Homo sapiens: one gene and its partner. The protein of the gene in region 1 purifies or fractionates together with the protein of each later gene. This does not show direct contact. Each region holds a gene or a part of one and is shown on either strand. Other genes may lie near its edges.

Region 1 (3,750 bases):
AATAAATAACATTCTAGGAGAGAACAATTTAAAGGATAAAATTACCACCTTCCCTCTCCCCAGTTTGCTAGCTGGCCTGGTATTATCTCTGTTGTTCACTTCACAGGCTATAGTTTCCACTTTATTATCCAAGAAAAACAGGCTAATAAAATATTTAATAGCTATTAGGTAGCACATATTTGAGCAAAGGTATTAATCAGAAGAGTTTTAAATTAACCTAAAAAAGCCCACAGACATTAATAAGCAAAACGTACTATTTTGATATTCAACGCTAACGTGTAAGTACACATTATCAATTAATATCAGAAACTGGATACCTATTAGACTAGTTAATTATAACTGACAATGGGCTTGAGTGTCATGGCAGAAATAAATCGATCAGAAGCAATGACATTCTGATGTCAGTTTTCTGGCAGAATATACCAAGGTGACAAAAGGAAAAAGGGGTGGGTGGAAAGTGTCAAAATCCCTATGGAGAGTAAACAGAAAAATATCTCCCTATTTATAAAATATCAACCAAAATGGCACCTGGTGATATTCTGACATTGTATTCTATGTTTGCATTTCTAAATTTCAGTTTATCATTCAACATGATCTAAACTGCTTTACTTTTCACTAAGAGGAAGAACTAGGAAAGAAATCAGCCTACAAATGGCTTACACTGTACACAACAGAACACAGATCAAAAAAACATCCACAGGCCGGGCGTGGCGGCTCACGCCTGTAATACCAGCACTTTGGGAGGCTGAAGTGGGCAGATCACCTGAGATCAGGAGTTTGAGACTAGCCTGGCCAACATGGCGAAACCCCGTCTCTACTAAAAATACAAAAATTAGCCGGGCGTGTTGGCGGGTGCCTGTAATCCCACCTACTCAGGAGGCAGAGGCAGGAGAATCACTCAAACCCCAGAGGCAGAGGTTACAGTGAGCCGAGATCGCGCCATTGCACTCCAACCAGGGCAACAAGAGCGAAACTCCATCTCAAAAAAATATATATATATATCAACAATAATCCCTACTACTGGAGTTAACAGATTACTGCAGGTTACAGGTAGGGCTCTGCTGGGAAGAACAAAGCAATCAGAATCACAGACTGATGAAGCTGTCCCTACTATAAAAGTCCCAAGCAAAAATGCTCCAATACTGTATCCTCTGGATCTCCCTGAGCCGTTAAGGGGGAGAAAAAGTCAGGTAAGCAGCTGTAAAGTTATGTCTAAATCATTTGTGCACATGATAAAATCATATAGGTGAGCGATGACCATTTTAAAAATGTTCTAGTCTGAAGCAAAAGGAACTACACAGCTCATGATTATCTAGGGTTTAAGTGCTTTTCTTTTTTCTTTTTTTTTTTTTTGAGACAGAGTCTCACTCTGTCTCCAGGATGGAGTACAGTGGCGTGATCTCAGCTCACTGCAACCCGCGCCTCCTGGGTTCCAGCAATTCTCCTGCCTCAGCCTTCCGAGTAGCTGGGACTACAGGAGTGTGCCACCATGACTAGCTAATTTTTGTATTTTTAGTAGAGACGGGGTTTCACCACGTTGGTTAGGATGGTCTCCATCTCTTGAGCTTGTGATCCGCCCACCTCGGCCTCCCAAAGTGCTGGGATTACAGGCGTGAGCTACTGCTCCTGGCCTTTTTTTTTTTTTTGAGATGGAGTTTCACTCTTGTCCCCCAGGCTGGAATGCAATGGTGTGATCTTGACTCATTGCAACCTCTGTCCCCCGGGTTCAAGCAATTCTCCTGCCTCAGCCTCCTGAGTAGCTGGGATTACAGGTGCCTGCCACCACACCCGGCTAATTTTTGTATTTTTAGCAGAGACAGGGTTTCACCATGTTGGCCAGGCTGGTCTCAAACTCCTGACCTCAGGTGATCCGCCTGCCTTGGCCTCCCAAAGTGCTGAGAATATAGGTGTGAGCCATTGTACCCAGCCTCAAGTGCTTTTCCTTGAGGAAGTCACACATGATTTTACTCCACAACTCTTATTTCATAGGAGCAGTGTACACCTTAGTATCCTATCCCTTCTAACCCAACCACTAACTTCAAATCAAGCCTCCAAGACAGAAATTCTTTACTCTCCTCATGGTGGTAAAAAGGGCATAAAGTAAGGCCAGCGGCGGCGGCTAAAGCCTGTATGTACCTCAGCACTTTGCAAGGCTGAGGCGAGAGGATCACCTGAGGTCAGGAGTTTGAGACCAGCCTGACTAACATGGTGAAATCTGATCTCTACTAAAATACAAAAATTAGCCAGACGTGGCAGGTGCCTGTAATCTCAGTTACTTGGGAAGCTGAAGCAGGAGAATCGCTTGAACTCTAGAGGCTGAGGCTGCAGTGAGCCAAGATTGCTCCACCGCACTCCAGCCTGGGCGACAGAGAGAGACTCCCTCTCAAAAAAAAAAAAAGACTTTACTGGCAGGGCATGGTGGCTCACGCCTGTAATCCCAGCACTATGGGAGCCCGAGATGGGTGGATCACCTGAGGTCAGGAGTTTGAGACCAGCCTGGCCAACATGGTGAAACCCTGTCTCTACTAAAATACAAAAATTAGTCAGATGTGGTGGCAGGTGCCTGTAATCTGTTACTTGGGAGGCTGAGCAGGCAACTCGCTTGAACCCGGGAGGCTGAGGCTGCAATGAGCCAAGATCACCCCACTGCACTCCAGCCTGGGTGACAAGAGCAAGAGTCCACCTAAAAAAAGAGAAAAAAGATTTTATTTGCGATTGGAAGAGAGTGTTTCTTTGTCTGCATGGTACCAGAGGAATTAGGAAGTTGGCAGGAACAAGTGATGGTTTATGATTTCCTGAATTGTTAAAGGCTAGAAGGCTGGCCCTGTAGAAATTCAAGAAGTGTGCGTGTCAACCACCCTAAAACCATTTACTGTTCTTAGCTGTTTAGCTGAACTCCACTTAAGTTTTGGTGAAACTCTGAAATCCTAAAGGACAATGTTCTCTGACAATGCTGAAAATGGATATAAAACAAAAATGTCATAGCCAAGGACATATTGACAGTTTTTGATAAGCCACTCACAACTTCTAGGCACTCCCAATCTTCTGGCATTTAAATTGGGAAGGAGAGGTTATTTAGGAGAGTTTGTTCCCTGCCAATATTAAAGATAGTTTCACCATTAAGCTGTCAGCTTTTACACTGTTGACAAGTGAAATACACAGAGTAAAGCAAACCATAAGCTCTAAGAGATGTTTAACTACTTTTGCTATTGGAGCAATTACCATGTTTGGATTTGGTGGAGGCCATTATAATCTTTCCATAGTCCATCAAGAGCTTGAAATTTAGCCACTTTTTGCCCCCTTTTTTTTGTTTTGAGACAGAGTCTTGCTCTGTCACCCAGACTGGAGTGCAGTGGTGTGATCTCGGCTCACTGCAACCTCTGCCTCCCGGGTTCAAGCAATTCTCCTGACTCAGCCTCCTAAGTAGCTGGGATTACAGGCCTGCGCCAACATGCCTGGCTAATTTTTTTGTATTTTTTAGTAGAGATGGGGTTTCACCATGTTGGCCAGGCTGGTCTCGAACTCCTGACCTTGCGATATGCCTGTAATCCCAGCATTTTTGGAGGCCGAAGTGGGCGGATTACTTGAGGTCAGGAGTTCAAGACTAGTCTGGCTGACATGATGAAACCCCATCACTACTAAAAACACAAAAAAATAAAATAGCCAGGCATGATGGCACATGCCTGTATTCCCAGCTACTTGGGAGACTGAGTCAGGAGACTCATTCGAAGCTGGGAGGCAGAGGTTGCA
Region 2 (3,750 bases), on another chromosome or scaffold:
TGGTGGCCAGGGCAGTTCAGGTCTAGAGTAAATAGGTGGGAGGTCAGATGTCATATAAAATTAATCCATGAAGGCATGTTCGTTTGTGTTCCTAAAACTACTGGATACCGTGGAGGTGTTGAAGGCTGGAGACCCGAAGACACATAAGAAAATGAGATTGTGATCTGAAAGGCAAAATAGACTGAAAAGTAGGCTAGTAATGATGGAAGTGCATATGTCCGTCTAGTCCCAGCCCAGATGCCACTTTAGTCCACCAAGCTTGCCTTGATATCCCCCACCTCCAAATCACAATTAATCACTTGCTTATCGACAATCCCATAGAGCTTCCTTTACATTGCTCTCATGATTATTTTCCCTTTGCTTTATAGAAACACATTTCTGTCCTCCTCCAATGCTTAGTGGAGTCCTTGGGGTTCAGACCTTGATAGATTCATTTTGTTTCTCATGAGCATGATGCCGGGTACATGTGCTATTAAAGTTTGCTGGGTCAGGAAAGTGCTAGGATGCTGCAAGAACATCCAGTAAAGGGCAGAAATATAAGAACTACCATCCTTGGCTGGAGGCAATAGAGTACTGTGGCTAACAGGCAGGCTCTGGAGTGGGATAGACTTGAGTTCAAATTCATTCTTAGCAGCTTCCAGCTGTGTAACCTTGGGCACCCTCTCTAAAGCTTCAACTTTTAAGACTGTGGAATGGATCTCAACTGTCAAATAGCACAAACCTCACTGGACTGAATGAGATGACCCACGTAGTGGCATATGGTAAGTGCTCAACAGCTATTAGTGGATTGGTGCTGGTCCAAGGGAGGACATGCCAGTGCAGCCCTTAAAAAGGGAGCTGGAGAAGAAAGGAGTTTGGGGCTGCATTTTCACATAAGGTGCCAGGGCCTGATGCTGAGCAAAACCTTTGTATTGGGTGCCACCGACTGTCATCTCTTGTTTAGGTTTGACTGGGGAAACGTTTCCACAGACATGAACTAGTTTGTCAAGGCTGGCAAGGGATTTTCAAGGGTTTAGGGGTGCAGTCTAGGCTCAGAGCTCAGAGTGCAAGCCACAAAAGAGAGCCATCTTCCTGAGTCACCAAAACACTTGATTCGGGCCTCTGACCCTTAGCTGGCAGCCCCTTAGGATAGGATGGGCTGTGCCTGGGTCTGTCTTTGCTGCTAGGGGCTCTGAGAGAGGAAGCCCCATTTGTCACTTTCATTTCTATGTCCCCAGCCCCTTGCAGTATGCTTCATCCTAAGCAGGCATTCAAAGTGCTTGTTGAAGGAATAGATTTGTGTCCTAGTTACAGCCCTGACTTCCACTAGATGCTCAAAGATTGCCCTGATTTTGCAAGGAAGAGCAACTACTCAGGGAAACTGAGGCACACTTGTAGGTTAGAGTCCCTCAGTCTGCAAGGAGACACACACATCCTCAGCAGTGGGGAAGTGGTTTGGTTACTGAAGCTGTAAATAAGAATTTTGTCTTTATATTAATTCCTACTCTGATTCTAGGGAAGAACTCTCCTCTCAGGCTGGAGTAAGGGGAGAACTGAGCTCAGACACTGCCTCTTAGTTGTGGGGGCTGCAAACTGCCCCTCCCTCATGATATCTTCTCAGCTGTTTGCAAAACAGTCAGGGAGGAGGTGAAGCCCTGAGCCAGGCGGCCTGTCTGTCTCTTTAAATGCTGGGGTCTGTGTGGGAGAGGGAGGGGCCGGCTCTGGAGTGCGTGAAATTCCTGGGCTCCTCCAGCAGTCTCAGGCTCAGCGCTCAGCCCTACACATCGCCTCTTGCATGCAACTCACAGAGAGGGAGAGGCAACCTGTCCTCCCCTCTCTCAGCCTCGGCATCTCCAGCCACCAAGGACCTGCTTTTCGCACCTCCAACAACCCCTCCCTTCTACCCTGCCACTCCCTCCCAGAGAGAAAGGAAAAGGAGAGAGAAAGATTCTGGAATTTGAACCTACCCAAAGAGGAAACATACCCAGCAAACTCAGTTGATTAAACATCAAACAGACATACAGACAGATCCCAAATCTTCTGTTCAACTGGAAAGGTAAGGTTTGCGGGGAAAGGAAGGCAGTCAGGGCATGAAACAACTCAAGGTTCTTGTCCGTTCTGGGAAGAGGTTGCTCCTGAGAGGGTAGAAGTTTTCAGTTGGGAGCAACCAACCTAGATTTTCTTTTTTGAATACTGTATCCATGAGCCTTGGCTGACTGTGGAAATGGCTTTTCAACTGCCTTTCTTTTCCTTCAGTTTCTCCTGGAAGTTGGGTCCTTTTCCTCCAGATGTTGGAAAAGTCAGAGAATGTTTTAGATTTTTATCTTCTTCTTCTTTTTTTTTTTTTTTTTTTGAGTCTTTCTCCTATTTGCTTGAATTGTTAGTCTGAAATGATGTGTGCTCATCACTTCATTTTGGGCAGATACTTTTTTTTTGACATTTTGTAGTCACTTCCCCCCTCATTTATTCATTTATTTATTTGGGCTGGTTAAAATGAGAAACAGAAAGGACACTCTGAGGATCACAAGAAAACAAAATTGAATTGAGACAGGGATTTCCCTAGCTGTTGAGGAATTGACGTGTATGTGAGTGTGTGTGTGCTTTTTTTTTTTTTTTTTGAGGGGGTGTGAGGAGGTGGTCCTAGAGTCTAAAAATTCAGGTTGGACTCCTGTCTTGTGAAGGTGGGCATACTTGGAGAAGGTGAAAAGGGAGTGTGTGTGTGAGTGTGTGTGTGTGTGTGTGCGCGGGTGTGTGCTCCTGTTTGGATCGGTTACAAGGGAATCTTCCTCCACTGCCTTCCATTTGTTTATATTAATGATTTAGTAGCAGGCTTGCCTGAAAACTTCCACTCTGTGTAAGCACTGTGGGTTTTGCAAGCTCTCAGTGACCTTAAAGCCTGGTTCGATGTATTGTTTTTTCCAGGCATTGTGCTGTACCCAGAGTTTCAGCTCTTTCCCTCTCTCTTTTTTAACCACAAAACTTAACTGCTTTAGAAACATCATCCTGATGACAAGGAAAAAAATGTGTCCCCCCACCCCCCATCCCTTCTTAGGCCAGTGATGTAATACCAACCTAAGGGCTCGGCTGCTTTGCAGGTGACTTACCCTGTGATTACTTGTTAAAAAAAAATAAAATTTTCCCTTCCTCCATTAAATGTCTGCCTCTTTTAATTTGGATGTAGAAATATCATCATGCAATGAGAACATCATATTTTTGCTAACCATTATTGGGGTTTAGGTAAAGTAGGATTGCTCTTCTCTGATCTTTATTGTTAATACTTTTTTTTTTAATGCAAAGGTCAGAGATCATTGAGAGCTAGCTTAGGATGGAGCAAGATAGAGTCAGGGCAAATAAAAGAGCTGGTAGGACAAGAGCTGTCTTCTCCCCGCTTCCTTCGGTTCCCGCTTTGGGGAGATAGTTTTTCTTTTACCACTACAAGCCACCCCAACATTCTTCTTTCTTCCTCTCCGCTGGGTCCTGTGGATGGCCCTGGGAGGGAGAGGGGGCACTCCTTGTCACACCTGGAGGATGGTGTAATTTTGGGGGTCAGATGACCGTTTGCCTTTGTGATGAAGGTTCCAGTGGAAATTTGAACTCCCAGCACGCTGCGTGACTTGGTACCCAGGATAGTCTATCTGGGGGCACCTGGAGGTTAGTCTGGGGAGGCTGGAGAACTGGCTCTTTATTAATTTGCCGTTCTGGGTAGAGCCTTCCTTCATCGTTCAAGGGCTTCTGCATCGCCTTTCAAGTTAAAATGGTCCCGCTGGTTAT

Evidence for each region. The genes of interacting proteins can lie anywhere in the genome.
Region 2: the proteins of PIP5K1A (region 1) and NRXN3 purify together in Homo sapiens (affinity purification with mass spectrometry; 2 studies listed by BioGRID and IntAct, with this or other methods). This does not show direct contact.

Annotation. Positions count from the first base shown.
Region 1 is NC_000001.11:151,201,426-151,205,175, reverse strand, and holds part of PIP5K1A (phosphatidylinositol 4-phosphate 5-kinase type-1 alpha), read right to left. Parts: intron 1,371-3,750; exon of another isoform or gene 1-1,370. UniProt on the Homo sapiens protein: Catalyzes the phosphorylation of phosphatidylinositol 4-phosphate (PtdIns(4)P/PI4P) to form phosphatidylinositol 4,5-bisphosphate (PtdIns(4,5)P2/PIP2), a lipid second messenger that regulates several cellular processes such as signal transduction, vesicle trafficking, actin cytoskeleton dynamics, cell adhesion, and cell motility.
Region 2 is NC_000014.9:78,168,640-78,172,389, forward strand, and holds the start of NRXN3 (neurexin 3), read left to right. Parts: upstream 1-1,733; 5' UTR 1,734-2,035; intron 2,036-3,750. UniProt on the Homo sapiens protein: Neuronal cell surface protein that may be involved in cell recognition and cell adhesion. May mediate intracellular signaling. Functions as part of a trans-synaptic complex by binding to cerebellins and postsynaptic GRID1.